2 separate regions of the Homo sapiens genome follow, and region 1 is linked to region 2. A link means that fine-mapping ties the variant in region 2 to the expression of a gene that starts in the linked region. Tissue or cell type: thyroid. Region 2 holds a variant in brackets; the other region holds the start of a gene. All regions are shown on one strand. Distances are from middle to middle.

What was found. PIP is the estimated chance that this variant, and not a neighbour inherited with it, causes the effect.
Region 1: it holds the start of GOLGA7B, and the variant in region 2 is fine-mapped to the expression of GOLGA7B in thyroid (GTEx, PIP above 0.99).

What each region holds. Positions count from the first base shown.
Region 1 is chr10:97,845,197-97,855,951 of GRCh38, reverse strand. It overlaps GOLGA7B (golgin A7 family member B), which reads right to left and starts at 6,109. Exons shown (of 5, transcript NM_001010917.3): 1 at 5,637-6,109. The coding sequence starts at 5,648. GOLGA7B-DT (GOLGA7B divergent transcript) reads left to right here and starts at 6,154. Exons shown (of 3, transcript NR_108035.1): 1 at 6,154-6,286.
Region 2 is chr10:97,813,780-97,824,534 of GRCh38, reverse strand. It overlaps LOC107984260 (a long non-coding RNA gene), which reads right to left and starts at 2,638. Exons shown (of 3, transcript XR_001747563.2): 1 at 1,847-2,638. The variant TTTACAG/G (reference allele first, on the strand shown) is at 5,381.

The sequences.
Region 1 (10,755 bases), 31 kb before region 2:
CCTAAATCCAGGTGGACCTTGCTGTATGTACGAAATGTGATCTCAAAGTATTGTGACTGGATTAAATAATGTATAAGCCCTCCTGTAGGCTTATATGAGTTGATTCCTCTAATCAAGGTTTTCATTGAGGAAATCCCCTTGATATCTACTAGGAACCTATGATAACTCGGAGAAATAAGGAATGCTTTGGTAATATAAATAAGTTAATTGTTAACATGTCTGCTCTGGTTAAGGTTTTATAATGTTGTATTTTCAAGAGTAAAGAACAAGGCTATGGCCTTCCTCTGCCCCTCTAAAACCAACTTATGAAAGTCAGTCAATCTTGAGGATGGACTCCCCTACCCCTAGAAGGCTCATTCTAGCAGTTTTGTGGGAAGTGGACAAGACTGGGGTGAGGGGCCAGTTGGAGGGATGATTCTCTTTCTAATAGTCCATGGAAAAAACTAAAGAGGTGGTGAGAAAAGCAGTGGTGAGAATGGAAAGAAAGGGAAGAAACCATTCTGATATGGACTCAGCTTCCTGTCCTCTGACCCATACAAAACCTGCTGTTTTGGTTACTATAGCCTTGTAGTATAATTTGACGTCAGGCAATGTGATGCCTCTGGATTTGTTCTTTGCATAGGATTGCTTTGGCTATTCAGGTTCTCTTTTGGTTCCATGTGAACTTTAGCATTGTTTTTTCTTTTTTTAGCATTGTTTTTTCCAATACTGTGAAAAACGATGTTGCTAATTTGATAGGGATTGTGTTAAATCTGTGCCTGAATGCACACATGTGTACACACATATTTGTGTGCTGTCCTGAAGGCGTGTGTCTCTAGCGACTGGCTAGCTACTGACCCAAGCCATTTCTTCTTCCTCCTAGGCATACAGCTATATTAATTCCCAGCCTCCCTTGCAGTTAGGTGTGTCCCTATGACTGAGTAGAATGTGAGAGGAAGTGACGAATGCCATGTGTAGGCTTGATTCATAAAGATGTACCATTTCTCCCTGCTCTTTCCCCTTTCATGGAGGCTGGTGGAGCCCTGTGTTGAAGATAGTGACACCACAAGTTGGGAAGAGCCTTGGTCCCTGAATCACTGAATCACTGCCTTGAATCACCGCCTGGAATACCTGTTGATCAGGAACACTTACCTGGAACTTCACTGAGCAGGATACAAACTTCTATTGTATTAAGCTATTAATACATTAAGATTTGGGGGTGCTACCTTACATAATAAATTCCCATTTCCTCTTGGCTTTGATCCACAGGTTCTCAAGTAGCCAGAGTAGGATAAGTCAACACCCTTTTCAGCACCAACAATATCCTGAGCCTTAGACTACTATCCAGGCTCTGGGTGACCAGAGATCTGCTTCTCTCCCTGGAGAGTGTTTGTGGAGGAGCAACTCTGAGGAGTTGCTAAAGGATGATATCAGACACATTTTATATGGCAGAGCCTTAGTCTCCCAGACCTACATAGAGTACATATATTACAGACTCATCTGAAGTTGGTGAAGAGCCGGATTTAAGGCAAGGCAGGGTCTCCTGGTTTTCTCCATTCATGGTGGCTTGAGTGTGAAGTGCCAGGAAGCCCTAGTGGAAAGATGGCCCACTGACCTGGGGGCAGGAGACCTGACCCTGGGCCACATGGCCCTGGGAAAGTCTTCCCTTCTCTGCACCTCCATTTCTTCAACTGGAAACTAAGAAACTGGAACTACATCATTGCTCAAGCCCCTTTCATCTCTGACATTCTAGAGGCTTTATCAGGGATTATGAATGCAAATGTTTACAGGGGCTGAGCAATAAGTGGGCCAGGTGGGGCCTGGGGCTAATTAGAAAACTGGTGCCCCATCTCAAGGAGACAGATGACTATTGCCACGTGGGAATGTATACCCAGGTTGCCAGCACTTCTGGTGTCTCAAAAGAAGCCAGAAATCTAGATCTTTTTAACATCAAATATTCTGATTTTTGAATATTTCCAATACATTTTTAAAATGTATAAGCACTCAACAGACTAAGTAAGGCACACCCATGGACCAGACTCATTTCTAGAGCTGCTAGTTTAAGACCTCTAAATAAAGAATCCCATGGCTGGGGCCCCTTGGGCAAGAGCTAAGCCAGGCTCCAGGCCACTGGCCAGCTACTAAGTTTTCAGAAAGCTGGTGGGGTTTTCAGCAGAGATCCGTGATGCTCTGAAATCCTACCAGAGGATATCAAAATATGTGCACAACTCTCTCTGAAGCTGCAGTTTCTGTGTTTCCCCTGGGTGTCTCCCAGGGGGTTCTTAACTGACCCAGAGACCTGAGCCTCTCTCCACTTCTCACCTTCCTCAACCCTGCCCCTCTCTCCCATTGCCACCCCTGGCTCACTGGCAGCAGAGTGAAGACAGGGCCGAGAAGCATTTCATAAGGAAGAAAATCAGTGGTGAGACCCATGGGTACCAATTTTCAAACTGCAGTATGAGAAGGAGGGGGAGTCTGCCTGGAGAGTGGGTACCACAGGTCACACATTTGGCTCCTGTTCACCTGACAGTCAACTAGCTGGGGTGCAGAGGAACAAGCTCTAGAGTGCAAATGAGCTCCTGGTCCAGTCTGCCCAAGTCCAACAGGAGTGCCCCCCTGGCGCCATCTTCATCCTCATTAAAAACCATCTCATTCCATAGGATGCATGTGAGGCATCGAGAATTAGGAGGTTCCGCTGATGCCAGCACTCTGCTTCCTGGCTGGGGTGTGAAGGAGGAGTGAGGATCATGAGTCACAGACAGCCAGGTCAGGCCTAAGGATAAAACACCAGCCACAAGACCTCCCTTCTTCTCAGCCTGTACCAGTGCTCAAGCCTGACCCAGTTGTCTACTCATCATTAATTCCATGCCTCAAAGATCAAACCTCCAAACACCCTGCTTGAATAACGCTACTTGGATGCATTTAAAAATCTCTTAGAGACCAAACCCCACCACTTGGAGAAGCCCCTCCCAGCCAGGCACTTCCCAGTTGTCCTTGGCCATCTGGACTATTTCCCAGGGCAGACCCTGCTCCCAGTGACACACATTCACAGAGGTTTGCTGCTCAGAAAATGGGCTCATTGCAGCTCTCCAAATGAGGTCAGTGTATCACTCAGGAGGCTCCATCCCTCCTCTGAGTTCCTTACAGACACCTCTCCCCTAATGCTAACTCCTAAACAGAAATTAGGGAACAGAAAAGACCCAGTTTCCACCCATGAATTTCTTCCCTCTCCCTCACCCCTCCCTCTCTGTCCCTCTCCCCACCCCCTTCCTCTCCCTCTCTCCTTCTCTCAATACAGCTTCTCCTAGAGCTGAGGAGTTCCTATTGAGAATCCTAACAGAATAATCATGGGAACTTAAAGCGATGTTTTCCCTCTCCCAACAAGTTTATCCTGGTAATCTCAACTCAATTCTAACAGTAAAAACAGCCTTGGGAGAATGACTCACCCCACAACCCAGAATACGTGCAGGTCCTGTGCCCTGGCAGAGCTAAGGCTTCCTGCCTCAGTTCTGCCATCAGAGTCCACCCAAGGCCAAATTGTGAAGTGAGGAATGTTTGTCCTCAGCTCCCCATCACTCCGGGACTTTCCTCTGTCCCTCTGCCCTCAAACCAACCCAGCCAGGCCAAGCAGGGGGCCTGAGTCCCCACACTCCAGCCCTTCATGACTTCCTTTGCATCCCTCTCTCCACCAAAGCTTCACATCAAGACCTGGAGGGCCCTCCTCTCTATCAGGTGACACAATAGGCTAATTGGATGCAGGAAAAAAAAGCACTGGCCAAAGAGGCAGAAGACTCAAGTTCTTATCCCATCCCTGCCACCTTTTAGCCATATTTTCCTGAATAAGTCTCAGCACTTCAGTTCCATCATCTGTAAAATGGGATAATGATGCCTTCTTTGGCTCCTTCACAGGGACCAGGCAAGTTTCTGAACCTTAGTTGTCTCATCTGTTAATTGGGCATAATAACACCATCCTTACCCACTTCATAGGGCTGCTCTGAGGCTTGAAAGAGATCACTTATGCGATAGTGCTTTGTACACAGGAAAGCGCAATATTTTCAGAGGCGTTATGAGCAGAGCCCCTCCCAGGGGAGAGTCACACATGTCTCATAGCAGCCTCCTGGAAACGCTGTCTTGACATAGAGATAGAAGCCTGCTGGTTGGAATCTGTGGGCCATGGCAGACATCCTGGGACAGATGGGCCTGTTGGAATCTGTCAGATCACATCGCAGAGGCAGCTGCCTTCTCTGCCCACGCTGCTGGCCCAGCCATGCCCATGTAGCTGAAGTTCCCCTTTTCTGTCCAACACAGCAGCCTCTGCTGCAGTCTGGCAGCCCTATCTGGAAGGTAACCAACTCCTTGGTTTCTCCCTTTGTTCTTCCTGCTGTCCTCCATGTCTTTGGTGCTTTGTGAGTACTCTGCATTCCTCTACTCTAGAAACCAAGCTCCCAGGGTCTGCCCAGGGCTTGCCCTCACACCAAGTCCTGAGGGGCAACTCTCCGCCTAGCTAACCTTGTGCCTTGTCAGAATGCCAAGCAATGCCAAGCAACAGCACCTTGTTCTGTGGTGGAAACTTGAGTGGAATAACAACAGCCACACTTGGTATTAATGTCACACTGCTCACCAGGATGCCCAGAAGCACTGCATTGAATCATTCACAGGCCTCTGCTCTCCCCCAGTGTATGCCAGCTGGATTGGAAATGGGGAGACACCACAAAGGAAGTCAACATCAGAACTGGGGAGACCCTGATGTCCTGAGTTTCGCTCCAAAAATTCAAAGGCAAAAACTTTCCGCTCTGCTGCTGACATGCTGTGTGGAGTAGCAAATTAGTCCTTTCGTTTTCCACACATCACCTTTATCATGTATAAAGTGGGAACATAAAGAGCCCAATCTCCCTCCTGAAATGAGGGGGGAAAGGGCAATCCCTAGGGGTAGAGGGGGGAATCCTCGACCTCAAGCATTATACCAAGATTCTGCCCTTAGCTAACAGGCCCCGTGGTTCAGCCTTCAAGTGCTTGAAGGTGACACACCTATCAGTGCACCTTGAAGAAGGCAGAAACTCCCATCAGATGGAGGGGAAATCTGGACACCCTGGGACAAAAAAAAAAAAAAAACTCGAATGGGGTAAAAAAGCAAGAAGGGTGATATGCAAAAGTGGAGACCAACCATTTGGGTTCTCAGCCTGAGGATGTCTTTGTCCCCTCCCTCCCGCAAAGGAAATGCGGATGTAGAGGTAAGTCTGTCATCCCTTAGCCAAGCTTTTGGGTTCAGAAGCTGACTGCATAGCAACAGCGGACAGCCGCCTTCCCTCCCCTCACACACGCACACACACGCGTCTCCAACCCTCTAGGAAAGCGGTTTCAGGACTTGTGAAGTCCAGGGAAGGGGAAACCCCAGCCTGGGGCCCTGAAGCAACCCTGGCGCTAATGCCAACAAGTGTCGCGGACAGCTTGGGGGCTCAGGTGGGGCGAGGGGAAGATTGACACGCAAGGGGGAGATGAGCCCTCACTAAGCCCCTACCTCCTCCCTCCAGACCTGACCTGGGGAATCACCCCATCCCACCCCCAACTCCCGCCTCCCACTCCTGCCCAGCCCACCCCTAGGGCATTTGGTCCCGCGGCAATCGGGCACTGCCTGCGGGTGGGGCGCTCGCCCCTACCTCGGTGGCCATGATCCGGGGGCGCTCGGAGGCTGTCGCGGGGCCGGGCGAGGGGGGTCTCCGCGGTGCTGACCCCGGGAGCAGGTGGGCGGCGGCGGTGGCGGCGAGCTGGGGCCCGGGGCGCTGTCCGCAGTGCTGATGCGGGCGCCGCGGGCCCGGGCTCAGGTGGGCCGGGGGCGGGCGGGCGGCTGGGTCCAGGCAAGGGGCGCGGCGCTGTCCGCTGTGCTGAGGCAGGCGCCGGGCCCGGGAGGCGAGGCCGCGCCCGAGGCTCCTCACGGCCCGATCGCCCGCTGCCGCGGCTCCTGCAGGCAACGGCCGGGTTTAGCTTTGGCGGCGGCGGCGGCGGGGATGGGGGCGGCCGGGGGAGGAGGGGCCAGGAGCCGCCGCTGGCCGGGAGGGGGAAGCCGCGGCCCCCAGACTCCGGCGCCGCCGGAGAGGAGCCCCGCCCGGGCCACAGGCTCGGCTACCGCCCCGCGCGAGGCCCCGCCTCCCCTTCCTGCCCTCCCCCTCGTGAGAGCCCCGGAGCTCTGCGCTCGCTTCCGTGGCCCCCGGGACATCCAGCCTGAAGGACAGTGGGGCAGGAATTTTTCCGGGGCAAGACGCTTCAGCCTGCAAGGCTGACCGCTCCCGAGCCGCTCGCAGGCCCGCAGGTGAGGCCTCTCTACCTTTCCAGCCACCCCCAGTGCCCCGGCTCTACCCCTCCCTCGCCCCGCCCCCAGCTTCCTCTTTAGAATAATTTCTTTTCTTTCTCTCCCTTTTCCTCTCTGTGTGCCCCCCCCCCATATACACACAGTCAGGCTTGCACGGACGGCCCCTCTTTTCCCCTCTCCTTTGCACTTCCTGGAACCCCACTAGCTAGACAAAGATCCTGCCGACCGCAGAGAATCATTTCCTTTCTTTAAATACGTGCCCACATTTCGTTCTCAGCCATAGCCTGGGGTCCCTTCTTTCAGGCAGCTCCAGAATTGAAGCCAGTCTCTCCTTGCTGCTCTTCCTGGACCTGGTCCCCACCCTTTACTCTTCCCTCTCTCCTCTGCAACCCGAGTTTACATACACGCACCACCACTACCACCACCACTCAAAAACCACAAGCAGATGGTGCCAAACCGGTATGCTCACTCTCCAAGGATGGCAGGTCTGGCTCTGGTGCCACCTTCGCACTTTTGACATCATAAATTCCAACTAAATGATCTATTTGTTTAATAAAAAGGAGACCAGGTGCAGTGGCTCACACCTGTAATCCCAACACTTTGGGAGGCTGAGGTGGGAGGATTGCTTGAGCCCAGGAGTTCAAGACCAGCCTGGGCAAGACCCTGTCTGCACAAAAAATGAAAACATTAGCCGGGCGTTGTGATGTGTGCCTGTGGTCCCAGCTACTCAGAAGGCTAAGGCAGGAGAATCACTTGAATCCAAGAGTTCAAGGCTGCAGCTAGCCATGATTGTGCCACTGTACTCCAGCCTGGGCAATAGAGCAAGAGCCTGTCTCTTAAAAAAATAAAAATAAGGCCGGAAGCAGTGGCTCATACCTGTAATCCCAGCACTTTGGGAGGCCGAGACGGGTGGATCACCTGAGGGCAGAAGTTCAAGACCAGCCTGGCCAACATGCTGAAACCCCATCTCCACCAAAAATACAAAAAAAAATTAGCCAGGCATGGTGGCACCCGCCTGTAGTCCCAGGTACTCAGGAGGCTGAAGCAGGAGAATTGCTTGAACCCGGGAGGCAAAGGTTACAGTGAACTGAGATCACACCATTGCACTCCAGCCTGGGCGACAAGAGCGAAACTCTGTCTCAAAAAATAAATAAATAAATAAATAAATAAAATAGACATAAAAAAAAGGAAACACCAACACAAGTGCCTTTTTACATACCCATAATACCCCTTGGTCTCTTTGAGGGGTGGTGGGGTGTGCTCCTCTGCAGCTCACTGCTGCCTGAGAGTCTGAAGCCCACACACAGGGAGAACCTGGCGGCCAAGAGACCTGGCCCAGGCTTTTCCAGCTGTATAACCTCGAGCAACTGTCTTGTTTTCTGAGCTTATGGTTCTCTTTCTGTAAAATGTGAGTGTTGGATTTCACTAGACTGTTTCTAGGACCTTTTGTTTTTTCTCCAACCTTTTATTTTGACATTTTTAAACATACCAAAATGTTGAAAGAATAGTACAATAAACTATGCCATCTACCTAGCTCCAACAATTGCTTTTTGCCACATTTGCTTTATTGATAGATATGAAAACAGAGCTATATTTGCCTAGATTATCAGAAGGTGACAGATATCGTGGCCGGGCGCGGTGGCTCACGCCTGTAATCCCAGTACTTTGGGAGGCCGAGGTGGGCGGATCATGAGGTCAGGAGATTGAGACCATCCTGGCTAATACGGTGAAACCCCGTCTCCACTAAAAAATACAGAAAAATTAGCCGGGCGTGGTGGTGGGCACCTGGGGAGCTACTCCCCAGCTACTGGGGAGGCTGAGGCAGGAGAATGGCATGAACCCAGGAGGCAGAGCTTGCAGTGAGCCGAGATTGCGCCACTGCACTCCAGCCTGGGTGACAGAGCGAGACTCCGTCTCAAAAATAATAATAATAATAATAATAATAAGGTGACAGACATCGTGAGGTTTTATCTGTAAGTACTTCAATGAGATTTTATCTGTAAGTACTTCAATTCACCATGCATCTCCCAAGAAGAAAAGCGTTATCCCAACTAGGCACAACACCATTCTCATGCTTTATTTTATTTTATTTTATTGAGATAGGGTCTTGCTCTATCACCCAGGCTGGAATGCAGTGGCACCATCTCAGCTCACTACAACCTCTGCCTCCTGGGTTCAAGTGATTTTCAGCCTCCCAAGTAGCTGGGATTACAGGCACGCACCACCATACCCAGCTAATTTTTGTATTTTAAGTAGAGACAGGGTTTCACCATGTTGGCCAGGCTGGTCTCAAACTCCTGAGCTCAGGTGATCCGCCCACCTCAGTCTCCCAAAATGCCAGGATTACAGGCATGAGCCACCGCACCCAGCCAATTATCATGCTTTTAAAATGCCCATATTATCTAATATTCTAGAACAGTTTGTCACCCCTAAAACACATTAATAGCGATGACCCCTCAAAAATTTTCCCAGAACTTTTCATTTTTAGTAGCTAACATTTAGTGAGCACTTACCATGTGCCAGCCCATATGCTACACACTTTACATGTATGATCTTACGTAATCCTCACAATTACTCTTTGAGTTGTGTTCTTGTGATCTTTTTATTATTCCCACTTTATAAATGAGGGAACTGAGTAAGTTGCCCAAGGTCATAGGGTTTGTGGGGAATGGAGACAGGATTCAGACATGGGCAGTCAAGCTCCAGAGCCTGTGTGGTTGATCCTCCTAACTGTATTGCCTCCCTCCAGCATCTGGTAGACCATAGACTAGCAGAGCAATGACCACATCTCCAGCTGCCTATTTTGCAGATGAAAACGCTGAGTCCCAGAGTGTAAGTGACATGCTAAAGAAGTTAAAGGCGGGTGTCTCATTCTACCTTATAGTTTGGCATAGGATTTGGCATAAAGGACCAAACAGAATATCTATGAATCCTGCAGTGGTCACTGGTAATAAAAGAACACATAATCTGATGATCTCCATGTAAATTTCACAGTTCCTCCCACTTGATTTTTATCACATCAATTAGACAACCTTCTGGAAACCATTCTCTTCACCTGATGACTAGATATCTGGATGAGGCCATTCAACAAATCCATTCATCAACATCTATTTGTTGAACACCTACTGTGTATCAGGCACTCTTCTAGGAAATTGGGATACAGTCGTGACTAAAAATGCAAAGCCTCTGTCCTTATTGAACTTATATAGTAATGGGGGTAACAATCCATGACATAAGCAAATATGTGTAAAATATGTCAAGTTTTGATCACTGCTAGGAAGAAAAGTGTGATCACTGCTAGGAAGAAGATATGGTAAGGAGATAGTGATAGAGAGGGCTTATTTTCGAAAGAATAGTCAGGGAATACTTTTTTTGATAAGGTGAAATTTGGGTAGAGCCCTGAAGGAAGAGAGAGAACTAGACATATAGATACCTGGAGGAAGAGTGACAAGGCAGAGAGGACAGAATCCAAGGGCCCTGACGCAGGACTGGGCTTGGTATGTTCAAAGAATAGCAGGAGGCTGGGCGCAGTGGCTCACACCTATATCCCAGCACTTTGGGAGTCCAAGGCAGGTGGATCACTTGAGGACAGGAGTTCAAGAACAGACTGGCCAACATGGCAAAAGCCCATCTCTACTAAAAATACAAAAATTAGCCAGGTATGGTGGTGGCTGCCTGTAATCCCAGCTACTTGGGAGGGTGAAGCTGGAAAATCACTTGAACCTGGTAGGCGGAGGTTGCAGTGAGCCGAGATTACACCACTGCACTCCATCCTGGGTGACAGTGTGAGACTCCGTCCCCAAAAATAATAATAATAAAAACAAAGAATAGCTGGAAGACCAGTGTAGCTAGACCTGAGGTGAACAAGGGGAAGAGAGTTGGGAGTTGAGCTCAGAGAGGTAGCAGGAATCAGGTCTTCCAGGGTTTTGTAGGCCCTGATAAAGACTTCAGATTCTACTCATAAAGTAAGATGGCAAGCCTAAGAAGGTTTAGCGTAGGGGTGTGACATCATCTAATTGCAGTTTTTGAAAGATTCCACTGGATGTCAGAGGGGAGGCAAGGCTAGAAGCTGCAAAACCAATTAGGAGACTGTTAGAGCAGCCCAGGCTTAGAAGATGTGGTGGTGGCTTAGAATTTGGTAGTAGCAGTAGAGGTGGGAAAAAGTGGCTAGATTCTAGATATAATTTGAAAGTAATGCTGAGAGGATCTTCTGATGGATTGGATGTGTGGTATAAAGAAGGCAGGCCGGGCATGGTGGCTCATGTCTGTAATCCCAGCACTTCGGGAGGCCAAGGCAGGTGGATCACTTGAGATGAGATCAGGTGTTCAAGACCAGCCTGACCAACATGGCAAAACCCTGACTCTACTAAAAATACAAAAATTAGCCAGGCATGGTGGCACACACCTGTAGACCCAGCTACTCAGGAGACTGAGGGAGGAGAATCACTTGAACCCAGGACGTGGAGGTT
Region 2 (10,755 bases):
GAAACCTCAACAGCGTATCTCAGGGGTGGGTAAGGGAGGCTGGGATAAATGGAGCCCCAGCCTCTGAAGGCCTGACGTGGAGGTTGTGCAGCTCATCCCTGGGGAGTCCTATCTAGTGGGGGCTCGGGGGGCGACTCGGGGATCTGTACCATAAGCAAACTCCTCCAGGGATTCTGATGTGCTGCCATGTTGGGGACCACCAGCCTAATCCAGCCCTTCCCTCATGGAGTCCCCTCCTCCACACCCTCACAGAAGACCACTCATCGGGGGACTGGGAGCTCATCACCTCACAGGTGGCAGTGCCCCAGCAGTGAGTACACAGGCTGTGCCACGCTGAAATCTGCGTCCAGAATCCTCGTCTGCCCTCTGTGGCTGACCAGTCAAATGTCTCTTCTTCCTCAGGAACAAAATCAGACCCTATTGCAGCCCTGTGTCCAACCGCTGGCCGCCCAGATACTGTTCCTGCCCGGGGGGCTCCTGGTGTCCCCTTAGGCCTGACAAGGGAGAGACTCTCCGTGTCCAGCACGCAGGCTCCATTTGCGGGTAACTGCTCCTCCTCCTGCCCCACCCACACACGCCCATCTGTGCCAGACACCGCCGAGCACCAGGACACAGTGTCCTCCCCAGCCTGAGACCAGAGCAGGCCTGATCAGGAACACGCAGGACCCTGCCTTCTCTGCCCAGTGGCCTCTTGCTCCTGGTGCCATCGTGTCTACTTGAGATATTTCCAAATAGAGAATATAGAAACAATGAGCATTCCTCCCAAGAAACCGGGCTTGAAATCAGAACACCTGGGTCCTCCCAGGGCCCCCATCACTTCCAGCTATGGGACCTTGAGCGAGTCCCAGGGCCCATCTGGTGAATGGGGCTGCTGAGGGAAATTCAGACAAGCATCAGAGCCCACCGTGCCCTTCCCTCTCGGTGTCAGGTGTTTTCTGCCTTTGCCTGAGCCGTGGCCACACTCCCTTGCTAATCCTTCAGACGACTGACACGTATACAGCTGTTGCCCTGGCCTGAGACCCTGATGTGGCCTGACCGGCATGGGCCCCTACCCAATGCACTAACTAGCAGCAAATGAGCCTTATTAAAAAATATTTGAGGCCGGGCATGGTGGCTCATGCCTGTAATCCCAGCACTTTGGGAGGCCGAGGTGGGTACATCACTTGAGGTCAGGAATTCGAGACCTGCATGGCCAACGTGGCAAAGCCCTATTTTTACTAAAACAAAAAAAAAATACAAAAATTAGCCAGACGTGGTGGCGTGCGACTGTAATGCCAGCTACTTGAGAGGCTGAGGCAGGAGAATCACTTGAACCCGGGAGGCAGAGGTGGCAGTGAGCTGAGATCGTGCCACTGCACTCCAGCCTGGGCAACAGAGCAAGACTCTGTCTCAAGAAAAAAAGAAAAGAAAAAAGGCCAGGTGCAGTGGCTCTCACCTATTTATAATCCCAGCACTTTGGGAGGCTGAGGAGGGAGAATTTCTTGAAGCCAGGAGTTTGAGACCAGCCTAGGCAACACAGGGAGACCACATCTCTACAAAAACTTTTAAAATTAGACGGCTGTAATGGTGTGCGCCTGTAGTCCCAGCTACTCAGGGGGCTGGGATGAAAGGATTGCTTGAGCCTGGGAGGTTGAGGCTGCAGTGAGCCAAGATCGCACCACTGCACTGCAGCCTTGGCAACAGAGCAAGACTATCTCTAAATAAAAAAAATTTTTTTTTAATAATTGCATAGAGCTGCCTAGCACAGTGCAGGGACATGAGGGTTCAGTAAATATTTGTGGTATCTAATTTAGGAACACCAACCTGTACCCACCAAGGAGAATAAAAAATATACCTTAGTACTCACCTAGTTCAACCTTTTCATTTTACCAATGAGGGTTCCCAGAGAAGGGAAGTGACTCATCCCAGGTTTCCCAGCAACTTTAGTCCATAGTGGCTCAGTTTGCCCAGCCAGAAATCCCCAATGCTCCCATCGAAGGTTGTGGCGCTGACAACATCACAGCTGAGAGGAGGACTCCATGGTGCCCAGAACCCCCGCAGCGCCATTCACCAGAGGTGGACAACACTCCCTCCCGGCATCCCCCTGGGCCTGGCTTCTGACCAGAACCCTGCCCTGGACATCTCAAAAGCCCTCAGGACCTCGGTGCTGCCACCTGCTCACAGAGTGTGGCGGGTACGGGGGTGGACAGCCCACGTCCCTCTGCCAGGTTATTTATAAAGTGTTTTCAGATGAGTCAGGCACGGAGCTGCCCAGCACCACCAGGGACTACCCCCTAGAAATGCTAGAATGATCCTGAGCTCTGGAACCCCACCCCACCCCTTCATAGCCTGCTTCTCATGGAAAGCTAGAGGCAGGAAGGTGAGGCCAGGGCTCTGGGGCTGTTGTGATGCCCCCCGTGAGCCCGGGCAGGCCAGGCTTGGGAGACAGATGGGGAGGCCCCAGGAAGGAGAAGAAGGGCCTCGGACAGGCCCCCTCCGGGCCACAGACCACATGCCCCTTCCCCTTCCCCCTCCCAAACAAGAATGACGGGACAAGCCCAAGAAGACAACCCCCACCCTGTGCCCCAGGCGCTGGCTGCTCGCACCTCCATTCCTGTGTGTACTGCTCTCCGCCTCCGCCAGGAGCCCAGCTATTTCTATCTCTATGGAAAGGGAGCCCAAGCCTCCAAGCCTCCTGCCCCCCTTTCCTGCTCCTGGCAGTGCTCTAATTAACTCCTCAGCTGGATGCCGCCTGCCATGGGTACTCTGGCCAGGGCTGCCATGAATAACTGCACCTGCGCTCACACCCAGCTTCCCACAGAGGCTGGGCCCAGTGCCCCTGCAGAGAGTGTGACCACTGGGAGCCTGGTCCTGGGGGCCTGGACTCCCCCGGCTATGCACTCTCCTTTGGGAGCCTGAGCTGAGGGCATATGGGGGTCTTTGGGACCCACCCTCTCCTCTGCAGCCTCCACCACAACCCTGCAGGGGCTACTTGCTGGTTCAGCAATCCTGCTGTGTGCCTGGCATGGGGCTCAGACCTGAGCAGGGAAGGAGTCGGGAGGGCAAGGAGATGAATAAGCCTGTCCTCCCTCAAGGGAGGCAAACACATAAACAACTCATTATGCAATGAGAAGGAATGAAGTTAGTGCTAAATTAAGGTACAAGCTGGGCACCAAGACTGCAGGCCCTCAATTCTTCCCCACTTTTTTTTCTTATTATAAAAGCAATTCATACTCATTTTACAAAGAATTTATATATGCAGATAACAAAAAGAAAATTATAATACATTCTTTATCCATCCACTCAAGGACAACTTTGTCCATACCTGTGGCCCAGACTTCCAAACTTTTTTTAACAGAGCAAGGACAGGTCACAGATCTGAGGGTCTCTCCTCCAGGGACCACCCGCCTGGCTCTGGGACAGTCTTTCCAACTTGAAATTCACAAGAAATGCATAGAAAGATTTCAAAGCAAATAATATGGATAGTATGACAAGTTCATGTAAAAAGAAAAATCCCAAAACTCTATCAATGCCTGGAAAATGTCTGGAAAGATACTTACTAAAGGGTCAACATTTATCAGCTAGGGGGAAAGTGATGGAGGAGCAGATAGACTTTTTTCTGCTAGAAATGTCTTTGAATTGTTACAATAAGCATGGATTTATATAAACTTTATGATTTTTTAAAATGAAAACTTTTTTAAAAAAATTGCTCAAGGCATAATTTCCAAATTTTCTATGGCGTTGTCTTATCTTTGCACTTAGAATAATATAATATGAAAACTAAAAGGAGGTACAGCCACTGTGGAGAGCAGTTTGGCAGTTTCTGCAAAAGGTAAACAGAATTTCCGTATGACCCACCAACTCCACGCATTTGGATATGCTCGAAATGACTGAAAACAGGGACTCCCCTTGTTCACAAATGTTCATCACAGCACTATCCACAGTAACCGAAAGGTAGAAACAACTCAATGTCCATCAACGGCTGAATGGATAAACAAATCGTGTTATGTACATGCAATAGAATATTACTCAGCTATTAAAAAGAAATAAAGTGCTGACACTTGCTATAACATGGATGAAACTTAAAACATTACGCCAAGGGAAGGAAGCCAGACATAAAAGGCCACAGAGTCTATGATTCCTTTGAAATGAAATGAACACAATAGGTAAATCCATAAAGGGAGAAAGCAGATGAGTGGTTACCAGAGGCTGGGGGGAGGGAGAGAATGAGGAGTGATTACTTAATGGGCACAGGGTGTTTTTCTGGAGTGACGAAAAATTTTGAAACTAGTGGTTTTGAAACTGGTGGTTGTACAACATTGGGAATATACTAAATGCCACTGAATTGTATAATTTTTATTTATTTATTTATTTATTTATTGAGACAGGGTCTCACTCTGTTGCCCAGACCAGAGTGCAGTGGGGTGATCTCGGCTCACTGCAACCTCTGCCTCCCAGGCTCAAGCCATCCTCCCATCTCAGCCTCCCACCCCCAGCTCCCACACCACCACACCCAGCTAATTCTTCTACTTTTTGTAGAGACAGGGTTTCACCACGTTGCCCAGGCTAGTTTCAAACTCCTAGACTCAAGTGATCCTCCCACCTTGGCCTCCCAAAGTGCTGGGATTAGAGGTGTGGACCACCACACCCAGACTGAATTGTACACTTTAACACGGTTCCTTGTATGTTATGTGAATTTTATCTAAAAAAAAAAAAAAAAACAAACAAACAAACAAAAAAAACCACAATGAAACATTAAAAATAATAAAAACAAAAACAAAAGCAAAAAGCTTAGTCTCACTCAACTTTCATGCCCCCCAACCCCTGACCACCTGGCCTTCGAGGGTCTTGAAGGAAAAATCTTCAACCTGCCCACTGGCAGGGCCAAGCCACTTGGCTCCCAGAAGGCCTTGGAGAGGCAGGGGCAGTCCAAGGGAGAAAAGTACCCCCAAGTAAGAGAGGGGAGAGGAGCGCAGAGGCAGGAGCTGGGCCAGGCAGACAGAAGAGGGAAAGCAGCCATCCTGCACCAGGCACCACACTCCCGAGGAACCCTCGGATATCCCTGAGAGGTCAGAACTGCTATCCCATTCTTCAGATGAGAAAACCAAGGTTCAGTGTGGCTTGGAGGCAGGGCTGGGACCTCCTGACTCCAAGGAGGAGAGGCAGGGGAACCTGGCATAGCCCCAGGTTGTTTTCTATTTGTTCCATCTATTTTTTTCCCCTTTTCTGCCTTCTTTTGGACTATTTTTGATTATTCCATTTTATCTTCTTTATTGGCTTAGCAGCTGTAACTCTGCTATTTTAGCAGTTGCTTTAGTGTTTATAGTACACATCTTGACCTTTTCACAATTTACCTTCAAGTGATGTTGTGCCACTTCACATCGAGTATAAGAACCTTACA[TTTACAG/G]AATTTACTTCCATTTCTCCCCACCTGGCCCGAGTTCCCCCTCTCTGGGTTGTGGCCGAAAACACTCTCCAGGTAGTAAGCAGAGACAACCATAGAGCTCTGTGGGACCCCTGAATCTTGTAGCCTAATGTCTAGTGTCTTGAAAACCATTATTTCATATGTTCTGTCTGTTTTTTAAAAATTGTTTCAGGCAGGAGTATAAATCCAGTCCCTGCTACCCTGTCTTGGCCAGAAGCAGAAGCCCCCAACATGCATAGGAGGAAACCAGGACTCAGAGGCTAATCCCCTCACCCAAGGTGAGGGAGCCCATAAGTGGACAGGCAGGAATCCAACCAGCCCTGGTGCTCTCTTCCCTGGCCCACTGCTCCTGCATGAACCAACTGAGAATGCAGAAACCACTCTCAGTAGGAGAAAGTGAACTTTTGTCACCACAGCAAAAAGCTGCTCACAGCATTGTTACTGCTTTGGAAGCCAGTGGGACAATTCTTTTGCATAAAGTTACCCATTAAAGAGCAACTTTCAGCATCTTCCAAGCCTCACCTTAAATGCTCTCTCTTTGCATCTACAGAAGCCTCTGTGGCATATTCCCCACGGTGTTTGCTGTCTAGCAGGATGCATAGGTCTGCTGAGAATGTAGGATCAGCCCCCTATAAAAGTACTCTGTAACCTATAATATGCTGTAACAGATGGAATTGTCTCCCCACTTACCCTCCCATGAGTATTTTCTGGCTCAATCTAATCACCTAGGTGGTGGAATTGCGGTAACTCTGAGTGTGTGTATGTGTGCATACGTGTGTGTGTGTGTGTGTGTGTGTGTGTGTGTGTGTGTGAGAGAATTTGGAGGCAAGGAGGAGGCCCGTTTTTATCACACTAGTCAACTCACTTTACGTTCAGGGATCTATTTGTCTTTAAGCAGAGGGAGAGGTATTTTTCCTTAAAATCACTTGAGGCAGCTGGCTGAGGCCAGATTCCGACAGAATCTGATGGGGGACGGGGCCTAAAATAGCCTTCAGCTCCTCCCCACCCTCTATCTTGCAGGCAGAGAGGAGTCGGGGCCCAGTTCTTTCCCAAGCCCTCTCCTCCACCAGCTGACCCCAGAAATACTTTATTTAGAAAATCAATCTGAAAGCAACAGGAAGGACTTTCATTCCTACCAGCACCTTGTCACACATCAATTTCATTTAAGGCTCTACAATTCCACAGCTGTGAGGCGCAGGCAAAGTCCTTAGCCTGGCCAAGACTCAAGCTCCTCATCTGTAAACTCCCAGGACTGACCGTTAAGTGGCAAACATGATGCATGTGGCACAGATTGGGAGCTTGAATCTTAGGCTTCTTTCCGTCCTCCTCATAGTCCATTCACCTTGTTGAATGTTGACAACAGCATTCAGCTATTGGTGTTACCAGCAAAAGTGTTACCCAGGCCGGGCACGGTGGCTCACTCCTGTTATCCCAGCATTTTGGGGGGTCAAGGCGGGCAGATCACCTGAGCTCAGGAGTTCGAGACCAGCCTGGCCAACATGGTGAAAACCCGTCTCTACTAAAAATACAAAAATTAGCCAGGCGTGGTGGTGAGCACCTGTAATCCCAGCTACTCGAGAGGCTGAGGCAGGAGAAACACTTGAACCTGGGAGACGGAGGTTGCAGTGAGCCAAGACTATGCCACTGTACAATCGGAATGAGTGAGACACCATCTCAAAGAAAAAAAAAAACAGCATTACCCTTAGAAGTCTGTGTCCTGCTTGTCGGTCTGTTGCTTCCAACTAAAACAGATGGAAGGAAAACCCATAAACAACACCCTCCCTGCTCCATCCAGATCAGAGGTTTTCAAAGTTTGCTGCCCATTAGAATCCCCTGGGGAGTTTTAAAAATCCCAACACCAGCTGCACCCCAGATTCATTAAATCCAAATCTCTGGGGATGGGGTCCTGGCATCAGGAAATGTTAAAGCTTCCCGGGGGCTTCCTGTGTGCAGCTGGGGTTGAGAAGCCATGGTCTGGTGTGAGAGGTCCTGAATGCTCTGCCTGCCCCACCCTCTCCTTCACCTGCAATCCCAGCACATCCCTCGGGCTCCCTGAGTGCAGTAACCAGGATGCAGGACCAGACAAGTTTGGGAGAGTGGGACATTTAGGGAGCCCGCATTCTCAAGTTCTGGCAGGAGTGGGTGGGGAGTGGGCCCTTCACCACCCTGAGAATGAGGGCCTCCCATATTTTGCTCCCCAGGAACCTCATTATTAAGGAAATGCTCTCTTGCTGGGCCACTTCAAGAACCTGAGCATAAGCGCCTCCTTACGTACGCCCTGGCCACCACGAGGGTGCCTCCCTACCCCTGCCCCTCCTTACCTACAAAGGGCCATGATTCCAGCCCCCTGGCCAGAGCCCAGCAACTGTCAGGCCACCTGGCTGAGAGGCAAGCACACCCATCAAAGGGAAGAGGAGACAAGGTGTCCCTTACCAGCCAGCCAGCCACCATCCCATTTCTCACAGCTGGCCCACTGCCTGGGTGGCAGTTCAAAGATTCTGGAAAATGAAAAGACTTGGCAAGGCCAAGCATGACCTTTCCTCCAGGTGCAGGAGCCAGAAGGCTGGAGAAGATGATTCTCATGCCCTCAGCTTGGTGGGGGCCCCAGCTGTGCCTGGAAGCAGGGTGTCCAAAACAAGACTCCATCAGGGGACTAGAAGGAGGAGTTGGGTCCCCAGTCTTGCCCTAGAAAACACAGTTTGTGTCAGACCCATGGCCTGCTAAGCCCCGGCCTCCTTTTCTCATACTTGAGTGAGCAGGGCATCACCTGGGGACCTTCCCTCCAGGCTCTGCTGCAGTGGGGCTGCATTTTGAACCAACACCCCCAGGTGATCCTAATCCAGGTAGTCCATACTTTGAGAACCACTACCCTGGGCCTTGGTGGGATAATATCTCAGCATCTTGCTCTCCTGCCCATTCCCCCTCCCCCACACTATCATCCTCTCCAGAGAGCATCTGCCGAGAAGAGCATCACCCTCAAGAGGAAGAGCCTGAGTAGGTTTGGACAGGCACCCTCCAACCGGTGACCAAGCCTCACTGCCTCTCCTGTGAGGCCTTCACCAACTCTTCCCATCCATTCAAATTAGCAGAGATATCTACATTTCTGTAGTAGCAGAAATGTACATACCTAGGCCAGCAGGTATGAGGCCAGAGGGATGGTAGGTACTGTAGCAAACTGGAGAAAGCGTGCCGTGCCCACTCCTACCTGCTGCTGTGTAGCAGGCTGGGGTTGCCAGATCTCCTGATTTGTCAGGAGAAGTCAGGAATCTAGTTTTTATAGGCAATTTCCAGGTTTTTAAACTATGGGAGCCAAAGCCAGCACATCCAAGGTCCCAATCTGGCCTGTGGGCCACCCGTTAGCAGCCTGTCTAGGAAGTGGGCCCGCGGGATGAGAGGCCCTGCCTGTGGGCATCCTCACACAGTTGGCGTTAGCACATTGCCTGCCTGCATCCCCGGGGTCCCAGGAAATACCCCTGACATGAACAAGTGAGTGAACACATGGTGTTGGCAGGCAGGCGAAAGGGATATTTTTGTAGGGAAGGGCGACTTCCCACCATACCACACCTAAGGTCAGCCTTGTCAGCAGGGGTGGGGTCTGTCCTCCGTCATTCTCAGTAGAGGGCCAAGCTAATGCCTAATTCACCACCCCACACTTAACTGCCACTTCTAACATTGTGGGTGTTCTGTGAGCACCCCCCATTGTGCAGACCTCTCTTGGGTCTGTAGCTTTATCCACTCCTTCTCTAAAGCCCCCCAGCTTGGCCTGACTTCAGGCCACTTCTCAGAAACCTTTGCCCAGGGCACCCCATCCCCAGCCCATTCCCAGCTCCTCCAAGCCCTGCAATGCAAGAGCCAGCAAAGCCACAGAGCCGCCCCTGGGAGCAAAGGCCTGGTCTCGGTGCCCGCAGGAATATCCCAGGACACACCCTGCCAAGGGAGGTACATCTGAGGCTTCTGCCACCTCAGGAGATGACAGTAGACAGTCACCAGTGATGTGCCAGGAGGGAGGAGCCCAGCCCATCAGAAGAAGGGCTGAGAGGCTGCTTAAAACTGATCAGAAAAAGACGTGAAAGTCCTAAGGGAACAATGTAAAGCACATGGTATATAATACCCGCCCCATGTGAAGTTCAATGGCAGCTGCTGCATGTGAGCACAAGCTGGGTTGATGGGGGAAGCGGGTGGGGGCATGGGGAACCCTCTGGAGTGATGGAAACCATCCATATCCTGATTAGAGCGGTGCTTGCACTGATGTACAAATATAGAAAAAATACATCAACTGTACAGCACATGTAAAGATTGGTGGACTTGGCCGGACACAGTGGCTCATGTCTGTAATCCCAGCACTTTGGGAGGCTGAGGTGGGTGGATCATTTGAGGTCAGGAGTTTGAGACCAGCCTGGCCAACACGGTGAAACCCCATCTCTACTAAAAATACAGAAATTAGCCAGGCATGGTGGCGCATGCCTGTAATCCCTGCTACTCGGGAGGCTGAGGCAGGAGAATTTCTTGAACCTGGGAGGCGGAGGTTGCAGTGAGCTAAGATTGCACCACTGCACTTCAGCCTAGGTGACAGAGAGAGACTCCATCTGAAAAAAAAAAAAAGAATTTGTAGACTTTACTGTATGTAAATTTTACCTCAATAATAAAAGAAAAGAAAATAGCAATGGACAAAAGGAAGAGAAAAGCTCCCCACATATACCTACAAACCCAAGAAGCTGGAGACCTCCTTACCTGCTCCTTGGGGAAGTTTAAAGAGAGGCACAAAAGCCAATGAGGTATAAGAACCTTGCTCCCAAATAAGCCACGGTCCTGATTTCTAACAAAGTGAGCCAGCCAGCGGGTGGCCAAGTTCAACTGCAAATACATAACTGAAAATCTGCTCACAGTAGAAGCCTTGAAGGCAGGAGGTAACACCACATTTAGAGTCCTCCAGCCTTCTCCCATAAAGCCACAGAGCATCCTCACAGCAACCCTGAAGCAGCAAATCATGTCTCCTATTCAGAGGGACATAAATAGAGGCCCAGGGAAGTTCAAGGACTTGCCCCAGGTCACACTGTCAGTGCTAGGACTCAAACCTGGGCTCCCAAGTCTGTGCCCTTCCTTCTACCTGCAGAAGAAAGCGTGCCCCTCCTAGGCCACCCTGCATTCGAAAGCAATGCGAATGCGCGGAACTGTCTATAAAAATGGCCAATTACTAGGGATAGTCATTTTACCCAAACTTGATTTGGGGAATAATTTTGTGGTGGGGGGCTAATGATCAGCCTTTTCTTCAGAACAATCTCTGTTCGCAGAGACAGTAGTCTTTGAGATGTGCCGGGGTGAGAGCTGTCTCTATCTCAGTCATTTGTCAC